2 separate regions of the Homo sapiens genome follow, and region 1 is linked to region 2. The links come from fine-mapping of genetic effects on gene expression. A gene starts in region 2. The other region holds a variant in brackets. All regions are shown on one strand. Distances are between the middles of the regions. Region 1 has its middle 9.8 kb from the start of TOR1B. Region 2 holds the start of TOR1A (torsin family 1 member A).

Region 1 (12,264 bases), 32 kb before region 2:
ACCGGTTATTCCCACGCCCAGTGCTTGGCCATCCCGTTTGTGATCGGTTTGGGGCTGGAGGTGGCACTTGGTTAGGGAACAATAGTGGGAGACCAGAGTACTGTGTATTCACAAACCCAAAGAACAGGAAGCTTTTCAACAGCAGCAGTAGCAATGTCCTTGGGGTGTATTTCAACAATACTGCACTTATAAAGAATTCTCCATGGGACAGCAGGAGTATCTCAGGTAAGGTTGGGAGAGCTTGGAGGAACGAAGCCTGGAGGGATTATGAAAGCAAAATGGACAATATGTGCCTGTATTTCCCCCAGCACAGCACTGATCCCACTGGACTGTAATTGCTGGGGACTTGCCCCTCTGCCCCCACCTCCCGACCAGGTGGGAGTCCTGGTGGGTGGTGCCAAGTCTTTCTTATTGACTGTTGAGTCCCAACACCTGACAAAGAGGAAGCCCCCGGCCACAAGTAGATAGGGGATGCATTTCCAACGTGAGTAGAATGGATGATAGTGGCCCAGAGTTCAAGGAGAGAACTTCCTGGAAGACTTGGCTCCCACAACAGCCACCCCCTTATTTATTTATTTATCTATTTTTTTTTTTGAGACGGAGTCTCACTCTGTCACCTGGGCTGGAGTGCAGTGGTGAAATCTCAGCTCACTGCAACCTCCACCTCCCAGGTTCAAGAGATTCTCCTCCCTCAGCCTCCCAAGTAGCTGGGATGACAGGCACCTGCCACTACACCCGGCTAATTTTGTGTATTTTTAGTAGAGACAGGGTTTCACCATGTTGGCCAGGCTGGTCTCAAACTCCTGACTTCATGATTCGCCTGCCTCAGCCTCCCAAAGTGCTGGGATTACAGGCGTGAGCCACCGCGCCTGGCCGCTAGCCATCCCCTTATTATCTCAGATTCCTGCACGTCCGTCTCACCGTACTTGCATCCCACACCATGGTCACTTGTTTACTGGTCTGTCCTGAAAGCTCTCTGCTGAGAGGCCTCCACACTCATCATCTTAAGTGACCCTCAGGCAACCCTATAAGGTAAGGACAACCATGCCACCAACGAGGAAACTGAGACCTAGAGGGGTTGGGCAACCAGCCCAGGGTCATGTTCATGATCATGGCAGAGGTGGAATTGGAACCCAGGCATTGTGCTCCTCCCTGTTGGACTGTTGGGGGAAAGAGTCAGGACACTGGGGTGGAGCCCCCACATGAGCCCAGCGTCTGTCCTGGCTCCAGCACTTTCTTTTTTTCTTTTCTTTCTTTTTTTTTTTTTTTGAGACGGAGTCTCACTCTGTCGCCCAGGCTGGAGTGCAGTGGCGCTATCTCGGCTCACTGCAATGTCTGCCTCCTGGGTTCAAGCAATTCTCCTGCCTCAGCCTCCTAAGCAGCTGGGATTACAGGCGCGCACCACCATGCCCGGCTAATTTTTTGTATTTTTAGTAGAGATGGGGTTTCACCATGTTGGTCAGGCTGGTCTCAAACACCTGACCGCGTGATCCCCCGCCTCGGCCTCCCAACAGCACTTTCTAGATGTTTAGGAACTCCCTTGGGCAAGTGACTTCATTTCTCTGCAAGTCACCTTCTTTGCCTGCAAAATGCAGATTTCCAATCCGCTACCTCACAGGGTTGCTCTGGATTTAAATGAGATAATGACTGTAACGCTCCCAGAGCCTGGCACTGAGCAAGCATTTCATAAATAAAACACTATCTATCTAATAATAATATTTGTAACCATCTATAACAAATATACTAATCTATAGTGACAGAACGAGATCGGTGGTTGACAGGGAGAGAACGTGAGGGGAGAGACAAGAGAAAGGGATGACAAGGTGGCACAAGGAATCTTCTGGGCATGGTGGGTATGTTCACGACCTTGTTTGTGGCGATGGTTGCATGGGTGCGTACAAATGTCAAAACTTAGCAAATTGCACTTTTTTTTTTTGAGATGGAATTTCACTCTTGTCGCCCAGGCTGGAGTGCAGTGGCACGATCTGGGCTCACTGCCAAGTCCACGTCCCGGGTTCAGGTGATTCTCCTGCCTCAGCCTCCCAAGTAGCTGGGATTACAGGTGCTCGCCGCCACACCCAGCTAATTTTTCTATTTTTAGTAGAGCTGGGCGCTGCAAATTGCACACTTTAAATATGTGCAGTTTGTTCTGTGTCAATGATACCTCAATAAAGCAGTGTGAAAGCACATGCGATATTCTATGATCTTAAGATTTCATAGGAATAGGGCTGGGCTCAGTGGTTCATGCCTGTAATCCCAGCACTTTGAGAGGCCAAGGCAGGGGGATTGCCTGAGCTCAGGAGTTCGAGACCATCATCCTGGGCAACATGGCAAAACCCTGTCTCTACTACAAATACAAAAATTAGCCAGGCATGATGGCACATGCCTATAATCCCTGCTACTCCGGAGGCTGAGGTGGGAGGATTGCCTGAGCCTGGGATCTTGAGCCATCACTGCACTCCAGCCTGGGTGATAGAGTGAGATCCTGTATTTAAAAAAAAAAGATTTCATAGAAATAGGCCACACATGGTGGCATGCACGTGTAATCCCAGCTACTCTGGAGGCTGAGGCAGGAGGATTGTGTGAAGCCAGGAGTTCAAGGCTGCAGTGAGCTATGATCACACCTGTGAATAGCCACTGCACTCCAATCTGGGCAACATGGTGAGACCCTGTCTCAAAAAACAAAACGACGAAACAAAAAGGTTGCATAGAAATAAACTGTGTAATATTGATACACAAAATACCAAACAAGAAAAGGAGAATGCCAAATATCATGTACCCCTTGGAAGGCCCCCTGAAAGATAGAGGCACTAACATTTGGATGAGAACAGAATTTAATGTAAACTTTTGACTTTTTTTTTTGAGACAGGGTCTGGCTCTGCCTTCAGGCTGGAGTGCAGTGGCGTGATCACGGCTCACTGCAGCCTTGACCTCCAGGCTGAAGCAATCCTCCCACCTCAGCCTCCCGGGTAGTTGGGACTACAGGAACTCGCCACCACATCCGGCTAAATTTTGTAGTTTATAGTAGAGACGGGGTTTCGCCATGTTGCCCAGGCTGGTCTCAAACTCCTGGACTCGAGCAATCCACCCACCCTGGCCCCCCAACGTATTGGGATTACAGGTGTGAGCCACAGCGCCCAGTGGAACTGTTGACATGTTAAATAATCTAGACTTTTGAACTTTTTCTGTTAAGTTGTTGTTGTTTTTAGCCCATCTGGAGGTTGCAGATAAGCCCAGCTGCAGGTCCTCAAACCTGCAGCTCACCAGCACCCTCTAGTGCCTTCTTGGTGTGAGCACATGAAGTCTCCCAGCTGTGGGCAGTTTCCCGTCTATCAGCACAAGGACACCTCTCTTTAAAATCCTCAAGTCTGACGCTGGGTGGGAAATGGGTGTGGATCCGGGGCGCTGTCTCTGGTCCTGAAAGTCACAGTCAGCTGCGAAACCTAAGTCCAGAGCCCTCTCTGCAGCTGAATCACCCTTCCACACCTTTCCCAGGCCTTCTTTCCATTTATGATGGCCTCGACGAGTAAGCTGGTAGTTTTGAATGTTTTGGATTGACAATTTAAATGTCATAGGCAATGCTTCTGGACAGCAATGATAGAAAGAGTAAGGAGAGTGGCCAGGCGCAGTGGTTCATGCCTGTAATCCCAGCACTTTGGGAGGCCGAGGCGGGCGGATCACAAGGTCAAGAGATTGAGACCATCCTGGCCAACATGGTGAAATCCCGTCTCTACTAAAAATACAAAAATAAATTAGCCGGGCATGGTGGCGCATGCCTGTAATCCCAGCTACTTGGGAGGCCGAGGCAGGAGTATCGCTTGAATTCGGGAGGTGGAGGTTGCAGTGAGCTGAGATCACACCACTGCACCCCAGCCTGGCGAGAGAGCGAGACTCCATCTAAAGAAAAAAAAAAGAGAAAAAAGAAAGAAAGAAAGAAAGAGTAAGGAGAATGGGAACGAGTGTGAGATGAGTAATATGCTGGCCTTCTAGCAACACAGGACGACAGCCAGCACAGACTCGGACAATTTATGAAAACCAAATATACAGTCTTAAAATAGAATGTGGGCCTAAATACCTGGAATCACCCCCGTGGTAAGATTTGTAACAAAAAGATTAATATGAGACCAGGCACAATGGCTCACATCTGCAATCCCAGCACTTTGGGAGGCCGAGGTGGGTGGATCACTTGAAGCCAGGAGTTCAAGACCAGCCTGGGCAACATGGTGAAACCCCGTCTCTACTAAAAATTAGCTGGGCATGATGGCGGGCGCCTGTAATCCCAGCTACTCGGAAGGCTAAAACATGAGAATCGCTTGAACTCAGGAGGCAGAGGTTGCAGTGAGCCAAGATTGCACCACTGCACTCCAGCCTGGACAACAGAGCAAGACTCTGTCTCAAAAAAAAGAATTAATGTGAACGGAGTTAATAATTTGAATGGAGCAGTGGACCCAAGAGCCATATTGGTGCTGACAAAATGGCAGCATTTATTGTATAAAGCTTCAACGTGGTCCTGCAAGAGCTCTGGCACCTAATGACATCTAGAGAAAATGTGAAAGTCCCTCAGCTGCCTGAAGGACAGTGTTATGGCAACTAATCCAAAAGAAGAGCTACAGGTCCTTCTTGCCTTTTTGACTTAAGCAGTCTTCATTGTTCACAGCAGTAAATTTTCTTTTTGGTTGTTGTTGTTTTGTTTTGTTTTTTTTTTTAAGATGGAGCCTCCCTCTGTTGCCCAGACTGGAGTGCAGTGGTGCGATCTCGGGTCACTGCAACCTCCACCTCCTGGGGTTCACGCCATTCTCCTGCCTCAGCCTCTTGAGTAGCTGGGACTACAGTCACCTGCCACCACACCTGGCTAATTTTTGTATTTTCAGTAGAGATGGGGTTTCATCATGTTGGCCAGGCTGGTCCTGAACTCCTGACCTCAGGTGATCTGCCTGCCTCGGCCTCCCAAAGTGCTGGGATTATAGGCATCAGCCACCGTGCCTGGCCAATACCCACACTTTTAAGGGAACAAAATGTTATCCAAGTATTTACAGTAGCACTAACTGGGGGTGGGGAGACCCAGGCACAACGACCCCCAGCCCATGGCTCATTGATCCAAGGTCAACCAGCCCAGGTTGGGCCAATCAGGTCCTCTCTCTGCAAACTCAAAGTTGGACCCAAGCATGCAGGTATGGGAAGTGGCCAAGCCTGATCCACCTGTGGGCAATGTCCCAGCAAAAGGTCCCCCAACTCCTGCCCCTGAGTCCTAGACAACACCCCGGGGACCCTGCTCTTCCTGAGATGTGGTCAGTCATTTCTCACATTTTTGTGAGTCACCCTGACCTCCTCTAACAAACCCTAAAAAAGCCCAAATCACGGTCAGCGTCTGTTGTTTGGAAACAAAGAACTTCAACTGATGGAGCAATTGGCTACTTAAGAGAGTGGGAGATGGGCAGCAGGTGCTTAGCGAATTGTGGGGACTGGGAAGCGATTACTGAGCCCACATGGGGAAAAATGCAGAGAGGCACCCCCCTTCC[C/T]ACCATCCATCTTCCAGGAGAGGGGAGTACCAGTGCCCACAGTGACAAAGCAGCTAAGCCAATTTCACCTGGACCTCCCTGAGGACCACCTACCTCCAAGAGGTCAGCTCCAGCACCCTGGGAAGTCACTGCCTCAGGCCAATCAATGGAGGGGTGACAGAGGCCAAGATCCCACCACCACCAGCACCAGGGCAGAGCAGTGGCTCTTCATGAAAGTGGGACCCTGAAATCTATTGAAAGATACCTTTGCTGGGCATGGTGGCTCACGGCTGTAATCCCAACGCTTAGAGGCCGAGGCGGGAGGATTGCTTGAGCCCAGGAGTTTGAGACCAGCCTGGGCAACACAATGAGAACCCATCTCTACAAAAAATAAAAAATTAGCTGGGCACAGTGGCACACGCCTGTAGTCCAAGCTACTCAGGAGGCTGAGGTGGGAGGATCACTTTTGCCTCAGAGGTTGAAGCTGCAGTGAGCGGTGATCACACCACTGCACTCTAGCCTGGGTGACAGGGTGAGACCCTATCTCTAAACAAACAAACAAACAAACATATCAGTGCTATTTTGGCAAGCTGTAATCAATGGAATGCTGACTCAATTCGGAATTTTAACATTCAGAGGCTCATGGTCATAGGAACTTAAAAAAATTTTTTTTGAATTTTAATTGTGCTAAAAAACACATCATATAAAGTTTACCATCTTCACCATTTTTCAGGGTACAACTCAGTGGCATTAAGCATATGCACCTGTTGGACATCCAATCATCTCCAGAACTTTTCCTCTTCCCAAACTGAAGCTCTTGTCTCCATTAAACACTAACTCCACAGCCCCCCTTCCCCAGCCTCTGGAAACCACCTTTCTACTTTCTGTCTGTATGATTTTGACTTCTCTAAGGACCTCATAGAAGTGGAATCTTACAGTGTTTGTCTTCTTGTGATGGCTGATTCTACCTAGTATGATGATCATAGAAACTTTTGATACACTTTAAAATTTCACTATATAGGCCGGGCGCGGTGGCTGACGCCTGTAATCCCAGCACTTTGGGAGGCCGAGGCAGGCGGACCACCTGAGGTCTGGAGTTCGAGACTAGCCTGACCAACATGGAGAAACCCCATCTCTACTAAAAATACAAAATTAGCCGGGGGGATGGCGCATGCCTGTAATACCAGCTACTCCGGAGGCTGAGGCAGGAGAATGGCTTGAATCCAGGAGGCGGAGGTTGCTGTGAGCCGAGATCGCGCCATTGCACTCTAGCTTGGGCAACAAGAGTGAAACTCCATCTCAAAAAAAAAAAAAACAATTCACTATACAGCCAGGCGCAGTGGCTCATGCCTGTAATCCCAGCATGTTGGGAGGCCGAGGCGGGTGGATCACCTGAGCTCAGGAGTTTGAAACCAGCCTGACCAACATGGTGAAACCCCATCTCTACTAAACAAAAATCAGCTGGGTGTGGCAGCGGGTACCTATAATCCCAGCTACTCGGGAGGCTGAGGCAGAAGAATCGCTTGAACCCAGGAGGCGGAGGTTGCAATGAGCCAAGATCATGCCATTGCACTCCAGCCTGGGCAACAAGAACAAAACTCCATGTCAAAAAAAAGAAAAAAGACACCAAACATGTGAGGTGGGCAGGAAACATGGATGGAAAACCCCCACTGTGCTTTCCTGTACCTGGGGTGGTGGAACTGCTGAGGGGTCCCTAGAGGCAGAGATGTCCAAGGCACGACTCCTGACATGTAACGGGGCTAGAGTTGCCGCCCGAGAAAAGGTCCCCCAAGCCCATCAGATTGAGCCTGCTTGGAGGCAGCCTCCCTAACCTCTGCAGAATAGCCCCCCTGGGGGTGCTAGCTTTTGAGTTTTTGAAGCAAAGTACCTAGAAGGACTTAGCTGAGATCACAAAAGAAATTGAGTTCACTGCCATAGGGCCCCCAGCACTTGCTTATGATGACATAGGAGCCGCACTAAACCCGCTGCACTGGAAGGGATGAGAAGCCTGAGGCTCAGAGAAGGTGGGTGACTTGCCCTGGGTCACACAGGAAACATGACAGCCAGAATGTAAACTCAGGCGGGTCTGCTTCCGGAGGCAGCATTTTGGAAAATTCTTTGTCCGACAGAAAGGGAGTGTGTTTTTCACAAATATTTGACATACGCCTTGGACATAGTACCGCACTAAGCACTACAGGTGAACAGAACAAATCCTGCCTTCGAGGTTACCGTACATTCAAGCAAACAGGGAAACGAGTCCCATTAGAGTATGAGAAACAGGACAGGCAGGGATGGGATGGGGAGGAGCAGGAGGACACCTGGGGAAGGTGGCAGGTCAGGGGAAGAGGCTGGGCCTGGAGCAGTCACCTGGCCTGGGGCTTGTCTTAGCTTCTCCCAGTAGTTCCCTCACCTGCAAATGAAACATTTGTTTCACAAGGTGTCATGAAGACACCTGGCTCAATCTTAGATGCTCAATTAAGGTAAACTCCTTTCATTTCCAAGGGGAAGGAGAGGAGCAGGGAAGAGGTTTCCTGAGACCTGTGGTGGATTAGAGATGCCCAGAGGGTCCCCAAAGGGGATGTCCTGGCCCTTGTGTGGTCAGTCCTTCATGGTGGGGACAGGCCCTTACTCTGCAGGGCCTTAGGCATCCCTGGCCCGCAGATCAGTCTGTCCTCTTGGAGAGTGTTCTATCCTTGAACACCAAGCACATATTTATGGAGCACCTACTGTGTCCTGGTCAGAGTTCTGGGAATTAGAGACACAGAGGACAAAAGACAAGGTCCCTGCCCTCCTGAAGCTCTCGTGGCAGTGGGAGAGGAGGGCAATAAACAAGGACTCAGATGGGGTGATAGGAGAGAGAGCAGGTGCCTGGGGGGTAGGAGTAAGTCTACTGTCGACGGGGGAGGTGGGCTTGGAGCTGAGGGTTAGAAGCTGTTAGCTGTGTGGGGCTTGGAGGCAAGAGTCCAGGCTGAGAACACGTTATATGTGAAAACTCCGAGGCAGGAGAGAGAAGGGGCGGGGGGCCTGAGAACGAGGGAGCCTGTGGGATGAGAACGAGGGAGGCTGTGGGATGAGAACGAGGGAGGCTATGGGATGAGAAAGGCTCTCTGAGAGGAAAGTGTGCACATCACTGGGGCTGGGAGGTCAGAGGAAGGAGGGCACCTTTCTTCCCAAGGGTTTTGGGAAGCCATCGACAGGTACCAAGCAAGAATAGCAGGACCCAGTTCCTTGTAAAAAGACCACCTGTCCCTGTTGTAGGGAGAATGACTCAGAGAGGATGGGGTGAAGATGTTTGCACTTACCGTGACAGACACCCCGGTGGGAAGGACTTTTTTTTTTTTGAGACAGAGTCTCACTCTGTTGCCCAGGCTGGAGTGCAGCAGCACAATCACAGCTCACTGCAAACTCCTGGGCTCAGGTGATCCTCCCACCTCAGCCTCCTGAGTAGCTGGGACCACAGGTGCAAGCTACCATGCCTGACTAATTTTTGTATTTTTTGTAGAGATGGGGTCTCGCTATGTTGCCCAGGCTGGTCTCAAACTCCTGAGCTCAAGTGTTCCTGGGAGGGACATGTTTGGGGAAAGTGACCAAGGCTCCCATTTCAACTGTGCAGCTACTGGGCTGTCTAGGGAATAGCCAGAGGTGTCCTGGGTGTGGCCAGGTATGGGTCCTGGAGAAAGTTGGGGGCCTCTCACCCAGGGAGAGAGGGGAGAGAAAGAAGATCTGGAACTGAGCCTAGGAGCCTCTCAGGATTTTAAGTGGGGAGACGGGGAAGCAGCAGCAACCTAGGAGGCTGGTGGCAGGGAGGGAGGATACCATTTAGCCAGGATGCAGGCTCCAGATCAGTTCCAAAGTCCCTCCCTGGCAGCTGCTGATTCAGAAGGGGGTTTCTAGCACCTGCAAGAAAAAGCATGACGCGGACGGGAGGATGGAGGGGGAAGGGGCTGCCAGGCAGAGCATGATTTGGGCAGAGGTTGTCACACATTTTTGCTCACACATCAGATTAACATTGAAAATTTTCATTGTGAGTTTATTTATTTATTTATTGAGATGGAGTCTCACCCTGTTGCCCAGGCTGGAGTGCAGTGACGCAATCTTGGCTCACTGCAACCTCCACCTGCCAGATTCAAGAGATTCTCCTGTCTCAGCCTCCCGAGTAGCTGGGATTACAGGTGCACATGCCACCATGTCTGGCTAATTTTTGTATTTTTAGTGGAGATGGGGTTTCACCATGCTGGCCAGGCTGGTCTGGAATTCCTGACCTCAGGTGATCTGTCCCCCTCGGCCTCCCAAAGTGCTGGGATTACAGGCGTGAGTCACCTCGCCCTGCCCATTGTGAGTTTAAATGGTCACAAAAGACATAATTTTTGCACTTTAAGATAACACTGTAGGGCCGGGCGCGGTGGCTCACACCTGTAATCCCAGCACTTTGGGAGGCCGAGGCGGGCGGATCACGAGGTCAGGAGATCGAGACCATCCTGGCTAACACGGTGAAACCCCGTCTCTACTAAAAATCCAAAAAAAAAAAAAAAAAATTAGCTGGGTGTGGTGGCGGGCGCCTGTAGTCCCAGCTACTTGGGAGGCTGAGGCAGGAGAATGGCGTGAACCCGGGAGGCGGAGCTTGCAGTGAGCCGAGACCTCGCCACTGCACTCCAGCCTGGGTGACAGAGCGAGACTCCATCTCAAAAAAAAAAAAAAAAAAAAAAAGATAACACTGTTGCATTGCTTGTCTAATTACTCGGTGGAATCTAGATGCCACAGCAATGTAACCTCCCATCCATGTATCAAACACATGAACAAGTCAGACACTTATGATCTTTTTTGTACTAGAACCCGTATTTCCATTCCACTCTCTCATCAAATGTCATGTTAATGAAATTTTTTTCTTCCCCTTTTTTTTTTTTTTGCCTAACAGTCTTATTGATCATGCTATCTTATTTCTCTGCAACAAAAATATGTATATACTACAAATGAAAACTTAACATAGGCCCGGTGCGGCCTAAAACTATAAAACCTAATATAGTTTTTTTTTTTTTTTCTGGTGACCACAAAACCCTAGGTATTAAATATTTCTTTTGGATTATTTTTAGTATACAATTGCTCAAAATAACATAAATAGGTTACAAACTTTTTTTTTTTTTTGAGAAGGAGTCTCACACTGTGGCCCAGGCTGGAGTGCAGTGGCACGATCTGGGCTCACTGCAACTTCCGCCTCCCGGGTTCAAGGGATTCTCCTGCGTCAGCCTCCTGAGTAGCTGGGATTACAGGTGTGCACCCCTATGCCTGGCTAATTTTTGTATTTTTAGTAGAGACGGGATTTTGCCATGTTGGCCAGGCTGGTCTCAGACTCCTGATCTCAAGTGATCCGCCTGCCGAGGCCTTCCAAAGTGCTAGGATTACAGGCATGAGCCACCACGCCTGGCCAAAATTTTTTTAAAAAGAAAAAACAATTAAAAAGAAATTTATTTCTCACAGTTCTGGAGGCTGGGGAGACCAAGATCAAGATGCCAGCAGATTTGGTGCCTGGTGAAGGTTGCCTTCTGCTTCCAAAATGGTGCCTTCTTGCTGTGTCCTCACGAGGCAGAAGTGGAAGGGTCGAGCTAGTTCCCTCAAGCCCTTTTTTTGAGACAGTCTTGCTCTGTTGCCCAGGCTGGAGTGCAGTGGCACGATCTCGGCTCACTGCAACCTCTACCTCTTAGGCTCAAGTGATTCTCTTGCCTTAGCCCCCCGAGTAGTTGGGATTACAGGCACCCGATACCACACCTGGCTATTTTTTGTATTTTTTAGTAGACAGGGTTTCACCATGTTAGCCAGGCTGGTCTTGAACTCCTGGCCTTAAATGATCCACCTGCCTCCCCAAATGCTGGGATGATTGGCGTGAGTGACTGTGCCCAGCCCCTCAAGCCTTTTTTTTTTTTTTTTTTGAGATGGAGTCTCACTCTGTCGCTCAGGCTGGAGTGTAGTGGCATGATCTGAGTTAACTGCAACCTCCGCCTCCCGGGTTCAAGCGATTCTCCTCCCTCAGCCTCCCGAGTAGCTGGGATTACAGGCACATGCCACCATGCCCGACTAATTTTTTGTATTTTTAGTAGAGATGGGGTTTCACCGTGTTAGCTAGGATGGTCTCGATCTCCTGACCTTGTGATCCGCCCGCCTCGGTCTCCCAAAGTGCTGGGATTACAGGCGTGAGCCACTGCGCCCATCCTCAAGCCCTTTTTATAAGGGTATGAATTCCATTAATGAGGGTAGAGCCCTCTTGGCCTAATCACCTCGAAAAAGGCTCCACCTCTTACGACCACCACAATGGAGACTAACCATGGCACCAATCCACTTGTGTCTTGCAGGACATCGTGTGTATTTTGCTTGATGAATATCAGTTACTGAGTTTTGTAATTCCAGATCTATCTAAACACCACTCATCAAATCCTGCCAGCACCCCGGTATAATCCTTAAAGACAACAAACATTTCCTTTGTGAGCTAAACTGTCTCTCCTGACTTGTGAACTTCACAGGATGGTTGAGAGGGTCAAAGGAGGTGATAGTCCCAGCAAATGGTTCCTGTTGAACTCTTACTCTATGCGGTGCTAAGTGCTCCACGTGCATCAGCTCACTGGTACCCCAGCAACTCCAAGAAGGGACTGTTGTGATCCCCACTTTACAGTTAGGGAAACTGAGTCCCAGAAAGGTGGCATCACATTTCCAGAGCCACTCAGCTAGGAAGAAAGGGAACAAACCAGGTTGTGATTTATAATCCCAACCTCCTCTT
Region 2 (12,264 bases):
GAGGAAAGGCTTGATGGCATCTATGAGGCCTGCATGCATCTTATCCATTTCATCAAATATGAAGATGGACCTCGCACAGGCACTCACGTTGCCTCGAATCCACAACTGTAACTGATCCTGAATTAAAAGGGGAAAAAGCGAACACAAAGTTCTCAGCCAGGGCCATCAATCAGCTCCTTCTACCACTAAGAACCGCAGCTTCACTTACAGACCACTGTGCACTCGGCACTAAGAACTTTACATGCCCAAAATCTTCTTTGTTCCTACCAACCCCATGGAGTGGGCACTATCGTTCTCATTTTACAGATGAGGGAACTGAGGCACAGAGAGCGCTTACTCCACTTGCCCAAGACTATATGTGGCAGAGCTGGGACCTGAACCCAGTCCTGTCTCACTCCAAAGCCCGATACTTTGGTTACGGTTCCCGCACTGCGAGATGCCACACGGATGCTGTCAGAGATGCTGCTCTTTTGTCATCAAAGGGGCAATGTGGGATGTCATGAGGATACTGATTTTTATTTAAAAAGGGGGTGGGGTCGGGCATGGTGGCTCACACCTGTAATCCCAGCACTTTGGGAGGCTGAGGCAGACGGATAAGTTGAGGTCAGGGGTTTGAGACCAGCCTGGCCAACATGGTGAAACCCCATCTCTATTAAAATACAAAAATTAGGGCCAGGCATGGTGGTTCATGCCTGTAATCCCAGCACTTTGGGAGGCCAAAGTGGGTGGATCACCTGAGGTCAGGAGTTCAAGACCAGCCTGGCCAACATGGTGAAACCTGGTCTCTACTAAAAAAAATACAAAAAAATTAGCTGGGTATGGTGGCAGGTGCTTATAGTCCCAGCTACTCAGGAGGCTGAGGTAGAATTGCATGAACCTGGGAGGCGGAGGTTGCGGTGAGCCAAGATCAAGCCATTGCACTCCAGCGTGGCGACAGAGCAAGACTCCATTAAAAAAAAAAATACAAAAATTAGCCAGGCATAGTGGCAGGCGCCTGTAATCCCAGGTACTTGGGAGGCTGAGGCTTGAGAATCGCTGGAACCTGGGAGGTGGAGGTTGCAGTGAGCTAAGATCACCCCACTGCACTCCAGCACTCCAGCCTGGGAGACAGAGCAAGACTCCGTCTCAAAAAAAAAAAATAATAATAATAATAAATAAATAAAATAAAATAAAATAAATAAATAAAATAAACAAGGATTCACTCAGACCTGTTAGGCTCCAGCAGCCAAGGTTTCTCACTCTGGTGACCAAACTTATATGCAATAACAGGGAACATGCACTGAGTGTTCACTATGGGAACAACAATATTCTAAGCACTGTTCATATAACTTTTTTTTTTTGACAGTCTCGCTCTGTTACCCAGACTGGAGTGCAATGACATGATCTCAGCTCACTGCAACCTCTGCCTCCCAGATTCAAGCGATTCCCTTGCCTCAGCCCCCTGAGTAGCTGAGACTACAGGCACCTGCCACCACGCCCAGCTAATTTTTGTATTTTTAGTAGAGATGGGGTTTCACCATCTTGGCCAGGCTGGTCTTGAACTCTTGACCTTGTGATCCACCCGCTTCGGCCTCCCAAAGTGCTGGGATTACAGGCGCGAGCCACCACACCTGGTCTGTTCATAGAACATTTTACTGTGACCTCCCAAAACCCATCACGGTAGTTACCATTGTGCTCCTTCTTTTACAAATGAGAAAACTGAGGCACAGACAAGTGAAGTAACTTTGCCCAAAGTCACAGTTATTGTTAGTGAAGCCTCAATTCTAAGATGATCAACTTATCCTGATTCGTCTAGAATGGTTCTTGTTTGTTTGGGACAGGGTCTCACTCCGTCACCCAGGCTGGACTGCAGTGGCTGTCTGCTCACTGCAGCCTCGACCTCCCAGGTTCAAGCCATCCTTCTGCCTCAGCCCCCTAAGTAGCTGGGACTACAGGTGCATGCCACCATGCCTGACTAATTTTTTTGTATTTTTTTAGTAGAGATGGGGTTTCACCATGTTCCCCAGGCTGGTCTGGAACTCTTGAGCTCAAGGGATCAGCCGGTTTTGGCTTCCCGTAGTGCTAGAATTATAGGCATGAGCCACCACACCCGTGGAACATTCGCATTTTAGTACAGAACCGCTGGACAGTGGGTGACCCACACGCTCACCCAGACAGAAGGGAAAAATGTGTTCACATTTTTCCATAGATACAGTCAGGGATAAATAACTGATTGAGGCCAGGCATGGTGGCTCATACCTGTAATTTCAGCACTTTGGGAAGTAGAGACAGCTGGATGACCTTGAGGTCAGGAGTTTGAGACCAGCCTGGCCAACAAGGTGAAACCCTGTCTCTATTAAAAATACAAAAATTAGCTGGGTGTGGTGGCAGGTGCCTGTAATACCAGCTACTTGGGAGGCTGAGGCAGCAGAATCACTTGAATCCGGGAGGCAGAGTTTGCGGTGAGCCGAGATCAAGATCCAGATGGTGCTACTGCACTCCAGCCTGGGTGACAAGAATGAAACTCAGTCTCAAAAATAAATAAATAAATAATTGACTGTTTTGCCCATCTTGCAGGTCTGCTACAAGGATCTAAAAGGCAACAGTTAACATTTATTTGTAACATGCACCAGGTACATGTTATGCACTTGACAGACAGAGCTCCCTGGATTGTTACAAGCAACACTTTGTAAGTCAGAATCTGAGTCTCAGGTCAGGCAACTTTCCTAAGACTACGGAGCTGGGAGAGTGTTAGGACTCAAATCCAGATGTGTCTGCTGCCAAAGCCCAAGCTGCTCATCAGTGAGTTCAACCATAAAAGCTGTTTGCGGCTGGGCAAGGTGGCTCACGCCTGTAATCCTAGCACTCTGGGAGGCTGAGGTAGGCAGATCACTTGAGGTCAGGAGTTCGAGACCAGCCTGGCCAATGTGAGGAAACCCCATCTCTACTAGAAATACAAAAATTAGCCGGCTGTGGTGGCACATGCCTGTAGTCACAGCTACTTGGGAGGCTGAGGCAGGAGAATCGCTTGAACCGGGAAGGTGGAGGCTGTAGTGAGCTGAGATGGCGTCACTGCACTCCAGCCTGGACAACAGAGTGAGACCCTGACTCAAAGAAAAAAAAAAAAAGGCAGTTTACAACAGTAGGTTCAACAAACTTAGGACTCTACATGTTTCCTCTTTCACAAAATGAGTGAGATGTGGCCAGGCATGGTGGCTCACGCCTGTAATCCCAGCACTTCGGGAAGCTGAGGCAGGCACATCACCTGAGATCAGGAGTTCGAGACCAGCCTGGCCAAGTTGGCAAAACCCCATCTCTACTAAAAATACAAAAATTAGCTGGGCATGGTGGCAGGACCCTGTAATCCCAGCTACCCGGGAGGCTGAGGCAGGATAATTGCTTCAACCGGGAGGCAGAGGTTGCAGTGAGCTGAGATCATGCCATTGCACTCCAGCCCGGGTAAGAAGAGTGAAACTCCGTCTCAAAATAAAGAAAAAAATAAAAAAATGAGTGAGATGTGTTGATCTCTAAGATGGATTTGATCATGTCCACCTCTAAAATCCCATGACCCTACATACTCACTGGACCGATTTTCAGAACCCACCACAAAGCTTTGATGGTATTAACTGCTCCACGCATCTCAAACTCTTAACTTCTACACCTTTCCAAGGGGAACTGAGACATGAACCGTTTTCCGGGCTCACTCATTTCAACATAGAACTCCCAAATCTCATCCCACAACAAAGAGACCCCAAACCCGATGACATCCAGGAAGGGATTCCAAACTTCCATCCTTGCCTTGTACAAGGTGATGTTTGAAGCATGTGGAAAGTGCAATGTGGCCACAAACAGGTGGACATAGTCACTGTTCAGACCACCCTCGTAAATATTCTCTGCGATGATCTTGCTGACGAAATTTTTGCCGGTGCCTGTCCACCCGTGCAGGGAGAGCGTGAGAGGTTTCTTGGGCTTTGGGTTGTTTATGAAACCAAACACGGCATTTAAGATGATTTTCTTTGCAAGATGCTGTCCAAAGAGGTTGTCGTCCAGATCCTTCTGCAGTGCTGGGAAAGACAAAGCCAATCAGGAGTGGGGAAGAAACAGCGGCAAAATGTAGCCACATTTACAGCCCATAAGAAAGCCAGCAAAGCCGTCTAGACGCCCTCCAAGCACCTTGCGAAACCTCAAGTACTGCGGTCTGTAAGCTCCTGGCCCAGAGGGGACGGCGGTCCAGGGAGCCCTCCCTTTGCTGGTCCTGCCTATTCTAAAGCCCTGGCCCGACTCCTTCCCGAAAAGCCCCTTGGTGCCACTGCCACTGCCACCAGTTTGCACCCCTAACCCCTGTGCTGCTCCTCCCACCCCAAGGCAGAGCCGGGAAAGGAAACAGTTTGGTCCCTCCTGGTCGGCTGCGGAAGAGTCCTCACCATCCTTCCTGTCTCCCGCTAGGCTAGAAAGGAGGCAGAACCCACTTCGGAGGGAGGTTACCACTGGTCCACCCCCAGCTTAGCGCAAAGTAGGCCAACCTGCAGCCTGGCTCCTCAGGTCTCCGACTTAAGTCTGGCACGTCTGTGGTCATGGCCGAGGAGCCAGGCCTCATCCTGCAGGCCGGCCGCTTGGCTTCCGGGGTCCGGCCCCCGCGGACTCAGCTCTGCCCAGGCCCGGCCCTCCTGGGATGTGACCCCTACCCCGGCCTGGCCCTAGTGCCATCCCCCAGCCCCAGCCCCAGCCCCAGCCCCCGCTCCTGAGCCCCAGCCCCCAAACTCCGCTCCAGCCCCAGTCCTAGCCCGGCCCTACTGCCATCCCCCAGCCTCCATCCACCATCCTCAATCCCCTAGCCCCAGCCAACCGCCCTGGTCTTAACCCAGCCCTAGTGCGATCCCCCAGCCCCACCCCCAGCCCCCGGGCCCCGCTCCATCCCCCAGCCCCAGCCCCAGCCCCAACCCGGCCCTAGTGCCATCGCCCAGCCCCAGCCCCCAGGCCCCGCTCCAGCCCTAGTCCTAGCCCGGCCCTGGTGCCATCCCCCGGCCTCCATCCTCCATTCTCCATGCCCTGGTCCTAGTTCAGCCCTAGTGCCATCGCCCAGCCCCAGCCCCAGCCCCAGCCTCCAGCCCCCGCCCCAGCCTACCCTCCCGGCTAAGGCTCCGCTTCTGCCCGCAGCACTCGGCGAAGAGGCAGTAGAGACGCGGGTAGATGTAGCCGGTGAGGACGCCGGCCAGGGCCAGTCCCAGGCTGATGGGCTCCACCGCCTGCACCACGGACGGCGCCAGCAGCAGCAGGCCCAGCACGGCCCGGCCCAGCTTCATGCCCGGACCCGCGCCACCCTGCTTGTTCTCGCGCCGACCGCGAACCGGTGCAGCCGCCAGACCCACGCTTCCGGTTCCTCCTCTCGCGGAGGCCATCTTTCTTCAGGGCAGCCCTCCTCCCGACGCCGGCGGCCGCCATCTTTGTTCGGTACAAAGCCCTGTTTTGCTTCCGGAAACTCGGTTCTGCTCCGCCCCTGTTGGCCACGTGTTTTTGTTTATGGACGTTATTTTTGCCAGGCATGGTGGCTCCTGCCTGTAATCCCAGCCCTTTGGGAGGCTGAGGCGGGCGGATCACCTGAGGTCAGGAGTTCGAGACCAGCCTGACCAACATGGTGAAACCACGTCTCTACTAAAAATATAAAATTAGCCGGGTGTGGTGGTAGGCACCTGTAGCCCTAGCTACTGGGGAGGCTGACACATGAGAATCGCTTGAACCCAGGAGGCGGAGATTGCAGTGAGCCGAGATCTCACCACTGCACTCCAGCCTGGGAGACAGAGCAAGACTGTGTCCCCTCCCCGCAAATAATAATAATAATAATAATAATAATAACGGACGTTATTTTTTAGAACAGATTTACAGAAAAATTGAGAAGATAGTAGAGAGTTCCCATGTGCCACCCATCCCTGCAATTTCCCCTATTACTAAAATCTTACATTATTAGTGTGCTACATTTGTTAAAATTAACGATGCACTGTTGTCATATTAACTAAAGTGTAGTTTATTCAGATTTCCTTCCTTTTACTTAATGCCTTTTTCTGCTGCAGGTTTCCATTCAGGATACCACATTATATTTCGTTGTCATGTCTTAGACTACTGTTAATGACAGTGTCTCAGCCTTTTATTTTTATTTTAGCTGGAGTGCAGTGGCATGATCTCAGCTCACTGCAACCTCTGCCTCCCAGGTTCAAGCGATTCTCCTGTCTCAGCCTCCTGAGCAGCTGGGATTACAGGCACACACCACCATGCCCGGCTAATTTTTGTATTTTTGGTAGAGACGGGGTTTCACCATGTTGGCCAGGATGGTCTTGATCTGACCTCATGATCTGCCCGTCTCAGCCTCCCAAAGTGCTGGGATTACAGGCGTGAGCCACCGCGCCTGGCCTCAGCTTTTTATTTTTGATGACCTTGATAGTTTTGAGGAGTACTGGCCAAATCTTTGGTGGGCTGGCCCTCTATTGGGATTTGATGTTTTTCTCAGGATTAGACAAGCGTTATGGCGTTTTGGAAGGAAGATCACAGAGGTAAAGTGCTATGCTCATCACATCCTACCAAGGAAGGGTTCTTACTGTTCAACGTTACTTACCACTGTTGGTGCTGACTTGATCACTTGACTGAAGTAGTGTTTGTCAGGTCCCCCCACCCCTCTTTTCTCTACTGTACTCTTTGGAAGGACGTCCCCATGCACAGCCCACACGTAAGGAGTCGGGGATTTTGCTCCACCTCCTTGGGGGCAGAGTATCTACAGAAATTATTTGGAATTCTGCATGGGAGATTTGTTTCTTCTCCCCCATGTATTCAATCATTTATATCAGTGTGGACCATTGTTATTTTATCCTTTGTTATACTACAGTACTAATTTTTTTTTCAAATTGTTCTCATTTTGGCCACTGGGAATTTGAGTGGTTCCTTGTGCTCCTTTGACATACACCCAGTGTATATACCAGCTTATTTGGGTTTGAGTGCCTCTTTCCTTTCTGACACTACAGGATACTCCGGGCTCATCTTGTATTTCCTGCCCCAGTCCTAGAATCCTATTTTCTACGAGGAACCCTGATTCCTTTCATTGTAAAATGGCATTAGAAACTGGCTGGGCATGGTGGCTCATGCCTGTAATCCAGCATTTTGGGAGGCTGAGGCAGGTGCATCACCTGAGGTCAGGAGTTTGGGACCAGCCTGACCAATATGGTGAAACCCCATCTCTACTGAAAATACAAAAAAATTAGCTAGGCATGGTTGCGTGTGCCTGTAGTCTCAGCTACATGGGAGGCTGAAACAGGAGAATTCCTTGAACTTGGGAGGTGGAGGTTGCAGTGAGCCGAGATCGCACCACTGCACTCCAGCCTGGGTGACAGAGCGAGACTTCGTATCAAAAAAAAAAAAAAAAAAAAAAAAGAGAAACCAAGGTCTGGGTGCTAGGTGTGCTTCTTGCTATTGAGATGTCATTTCTTTCAGTCTCAGCTGACAGAAAAAAATGTGTGTATATACTGTTAAACACACACATATCTATAAATATTTTTATAGGTAAACATCTGTACCTATATTAAGCTAAACATGAGCTCGTGCTGACATCTCCAACTCTAATCCATTACACAGATCATTGGAGCCTCCTCCCCTTGTTTATCTGTGAATTCCCACCCCAACAGTGAGAGAACCAGCTCCCTCCATCTGGCAGCCACTTTTAAGCTGGATAAAAGATTACTCATTTTCTAGCAAAGGGAACTCTGGCAAGTGAGAACTGTTGACCATCCACTTATTTGCCTGTTCATCCCATAAACACGTGTTGCGTTGCTGTGTGCCAGATGTGCTAGGCCTTTAGTATTCATCTTGGGTTACCCCTGCACATCGCTGGGACCTGTAAATGTTTGTTGAAATATCCTGAAAATATTTTTTAAGTTTCGACTTTTTCGTATTGGATTTAAAATACTTTTGTGCACCTGTTACAAGCCAAACACTATAGGGATCATTCATAGTTTTGAGGACTGCCTATCTGTCAGATTATGGGCTATGCCCTGGGGATTCAAATTTAAAAATTAGGCACACATGGTTCCTGCCTTCACTGACCATATTCAAGTGGAGGAAAAAAAAAAATCTCCATTTTACAGATGAGAAAACTGAGGCTAAGAGTGAAAAGGATCTGTCCAAGGACACAAGTAGTAAGCTGCGAGGTGGGCTCAGATCTGACTCCTGGGCCAAACCACTGTAACCACAATACCTGCTCTAAATCCACCCAGAAGTCAGCCAATCTGCTCTTTCCTCTTTTGGACCCCTGTGGATGCCTCAGGAAAAATGAGGGCACAGGTAAGAAGGTACTTGACAGCAGGTTGCAGCATGTCTATGCTGCAGTGGTCCAATCATAGCTCACTGTTTGAAATAAATGAGAAAATCCATCTCAGTAATTCAGTTTTACATTTAGGCTACCCAAACCATGGGCTTTAAAAACATTACCTGATGCTGGTATAAGAAACATAATACAAACAATAAGGTTGGATTCATTTTGAAATTTAATAATTCTAATAGTAATAAGAAACATAGTTTATGCTTTTTTTTTAATGAAAACAAACAAGTAATTTTGTAAAAGTCAGAAAACACCAGTATCCTTCTGATCTCATCCTGGATTTTTCTGTCAGCTGGAGGATGCATTTCTGACCCCATCCCAGACACGTGAAAGCAGAAGACATGATGCATCTATAATAATGAAAGCACAATCTAAAGAGTATTATCACACCGTGAACAGCTTCTTCCTGACCCAGAGCAAATATTAAGAGAAAGACAATATATTTACAAACAAGATTTAATAATGCTCACAAGAATAGAGTTTGCCCCCAAATGGAAAATTACACATTATTTTGTTTCAAAAAGTTATAAATTTAGTGCTTGAAAAATCCAGCAGGTAAGTAGAAGGACTAACAGGGTCTGTTTCTGGAACTGTCCGCCAGCAAATGAGCATGCTCTGTCCTGGAAGCCATTTTTCTTTTTCTTTTTTTTTTTTTTTTTTTTTTTTGAGACAGAGTTTTTTGCTCGTTGCCCAGGCTGGAGTACAAAGGTGCAATCTCGGCTCACCACAACCTCCGCCTCTTGGGTTCAAGCAATTCTCCTGCCTCAGCCTCCTGAGCAGCTGGGATTACAGGCATGTGCCACCACGCCTGGCTAACTTTTCTGTATTTTCAGTAGAGACTGGGTTTCTCCATGTTGGTCAGGCTGGTCTCAAACTCCCGACCTCAGGTGATCCGCCCACCTCGGCCTCCCAAAGTGCTGGGATTACAGGCAGGAGCCACCACGCCCGGCCAGGAAGCCATTTTTCATGGGAGGGATATAGGGAGAGGAAGGCGATATTTACATCCCACTCTGCACAACTCAGTACCGCCTATTCATTTTCTTGAACTTCTCATAATGATAGTCATCAGTTGCCTTCTCGTTAGCAGGACGCTTGCGGTTAGGAGGGGACCCTGAGAAGGAAAAGAACAGGAAAGGTGGTTTGCCATGCTGGAACCCACTGCTAGACTTTACTCCATGCAGGCAAAGACAACTGCCTGTTTCCTTCCCCACAGGAGCCCCAGCGCCTAACCCAGTGAACACAGTAGGGCCTCAGTAGATACGTATTTGTCTTTTTTTTTTTCTTTTCTTTTCTTTTTTTTGAGATGGAGTCTCACCCTGTTGCCCAGGCTAGAGTGTAATGGCATGATCTCAGCTCACTGCAACCTCCAACTCCCGAGTTCAAGTGATTCTCCTGCCTCAGCCTCCTGAGTAGCTGGGATTACAGGCACCTGCCACCTCACCTGGCTAATTTTTGTATTTTTAGTAGAGACGGGGTTCACCATGTTGGCCAGGCTCGTCTTGAACTCCTGACCTTAGGTGATCTGCCTGCCTCTGCCTCCCAAAGTGCTGGGATTACAGGCATGGGCCACCGAGCATGGCCAATACCTTTTTCTTTTCTTTAAAAAAAAGATGTGGTCTCACTCTGTCACGCAGGCTAGAGTGCAGTGGTCCAATCATAGCTCACTGCAGCCTTGAACTCTTAGTCTCAAGCAATCCTCCTGTCCCAGCTTCCCCAGCAGCTGAGACTACAAGTGTGAGGCACTGCACCCAGCTAACCTTATGAGTAGCTTTTATTTGTCCTTACTGAAATTTTCTAACTTCTTGAGTCTCTACTGTGCGTGAGAATATGAGAGAGTATGAATTCTCAGAGTAATCCTAACAGGTAGGTTCTATTAGGATTCCAATGAGGAAACTGAGGCTTAGAAAGGGGAAGGCACATAGTCATGGTCCAGAGCATGGACTGGAACCCATATGCCCCGGCTCCAATGCCAGGCTCCACCCTGTCCCCCGCTGCATCCTGCCTCCATGGGTTCCCACATTGCTGAGCACTCCAGGCAGCCCCGAGGCCTTTGTTGCACTCACGCTCAGGCTCTGGCTTCTCCGTGTCACCTACTCTCAAGGGCCGGGCCTTGGGCTCTTCTTTGTTTCTCCGTATGGGCGCGTTGAGCTCCTCATGATAAACTGGACCCAAAGAGACCAGGGGACACGTTAGAACATGAGGTTCCTAGGGATCTCAGCCCAAATAGGGGAATGGGGGCAAGACTGCTCTCCGAGGGGCTTACATCTGTTGTGCTGCACATAATTCACAGCCATGTTGGTAGGCACGAAGGAGGTCTCGCTGTCTTTCTTCTTGTTCTGCTGCTCTGCCAGCAGACGGGCCTTGGCATCCTCCGTGGAAATGATATTTTTTATTTTAGCACTATGGAGAGAAAGAAACCACACCACTTAGAAGATGATAGCACCTTACTACTCAGACATGAGTGGTGAGGCTGGCAGCCCAGCAGTACATAAGAAAATCATGTGTCCTGGGGCACAGCTCTCCACTTTATCAAGCACACTTGTAGTCACATTCTCACGGGACTCTCACGGCTGTCGGAGAACCACAGTTACTCTGCTCTTCTGATCAAGAGCAAATTGAGCTTCAGAGAAGTAAAATGCTTAAGGCTCAAAGTTTGTAAAGGCCAGAAAAGAGCCCAGAAGCCTCCCAGCTTTCTACTGTACCAGAAGATTATTCTAACAATTGTACCTCTTCCATAACAATTCCCTTTTAAAGTGGATATTTTAAGAAGGATCATGGGGAGAAGGGGTGAGTGAGCCTTTAACATGGCTCCTGCTAGAAGAAAACAGAAGAATAAAGGGCCTGATACAGCTGAACAGCTGTAACACGCTAAAGAACCACTTTTGCTTCCAGCAGTCAGGGGCCCTTACTACTCTGATCAAGCCTTCAGCGAAACTTCTAGCAACAACCTGCCAGGGACAATCTCATTTGTATTTGTAGGATTCTAAGGACACAGATAAGAACATGGGGTCTCATTACATTGCCCAGGCTGGTCTTGAACTCCTGGGCTCAAGTGATCCTCCCACCTTGGCCTCCCAAAGAGCTAGGATAACAGGCACAAGTCACCATGTCTGGCCTTTTTTTTTTTTTTTTAAAGGGTCTTACTCTGTCACCCAGACTGGTGTGCAGTGGTGCAATCATGGCTCACTGTAGCCTCAACTCCTGAGCTCAAGTGACAGCCCAGCTAATTTTTTAAATTTTTTTGAGAGACAGGAGTCTGACTATATTTCTCAGGCTGATCTCCTGGCCTCACGTGATCCTCCTGCCTTGGCCTCCCAAGTACTGGGATTATAGGCTTATAGGCATCAGCCACCATACCTGTCCCCCATAAATTTTTTTTTCCTTTTTTTTTGAGATGGAGTCTTGCTCTGTCGCCAGACTGGAGTGCAGTGGCATGATCTCGCCTCACTGCAACCTCCACCTTCAGGGTTCAAGCAATTTCCTGCCTCAGCCTCCCAAGTAGCTGGACTACAGGTGCCTGCCACCATGCCCAGCTAATTTTTGTATTTTTAGTAGAGACGGGGTTCGACCATCTTGGCCGGGCTGGTCTTGAACTCCTGACCTCGTGATCCACCCGCCTCAGCCTCCCAAAGTGCTAGGATTACAGGCATGAGCCACCGTGCCTGGCCTGTCCCCCATAACTTTTAACTGGAAAGCACTGTGTCTTCTGCCTAGGGGTCTCAAACATACTCGATGCCCAGGTCCACCTCAGGAATGCCACTCAGCATCTGGTTGGAAAGCATCTCCTCGGTCTTCTTTGCTGAGGAAACACGGATGTTTTCTGGAAGTTCATAAAGACAGTCCTCTGCATTCTTTGGCTTAACTTTCTGTTCCTCATGTTCCACGATCCCTTTCCTCTTCTTTAGCTCTGTCTCAATGTACTTCAT

What was found. PIP is the estimated chance that this variant, and not a neighbour inherited with it, causes the effect.
Region 1: its variant is fine-mapped to the expression of TOR1A in whole blood (TOPMed, PIP above 0.99).

What each region holds. Positions count from the first base shown.
Region 1 is chr9:129,787,222-129,799,485 of GRCh38, forward strand. It overlaps the pseudogene UBE2V1P4. Among named protein-coding and RNA genes, the nearest start is that of TOR1B, 9.8 kb to the right of the region's middle. RefSeq lists an enhancer at 3,029-3,218 and a silencer at 3,209-3,503. The variant C/T (reference allele first, on the strand shown) is at 5,520.
Region 2 is chr9:129,818,804-129,831,067 of GRCh38, forward strand. It overlaps TOR1A (torsin family 1 member A), which reads right to left and starts at 5,333. Exons shown (of 5, transcript NM_000113.3): 1 at 5,105-5,333; 2 at 3,778-4,043; 3 at 1-117. The coding sequence starts at 5,282. It overlaps C9orf78 (chromosome 9 open reading frame 78), which reads right to left. Exons shown (of 9, transcript NM_016520.3): 6 at 12,068-12,264; 7 at 10,602-10,738; 8 at 10,402-10,500; 9 at 8,487-9,449. The coding sequence ends at 9,358. RefSeq lists silencers at 4,718-4,807, 9,247-9,541 and an enhancer at 5,218-5,527.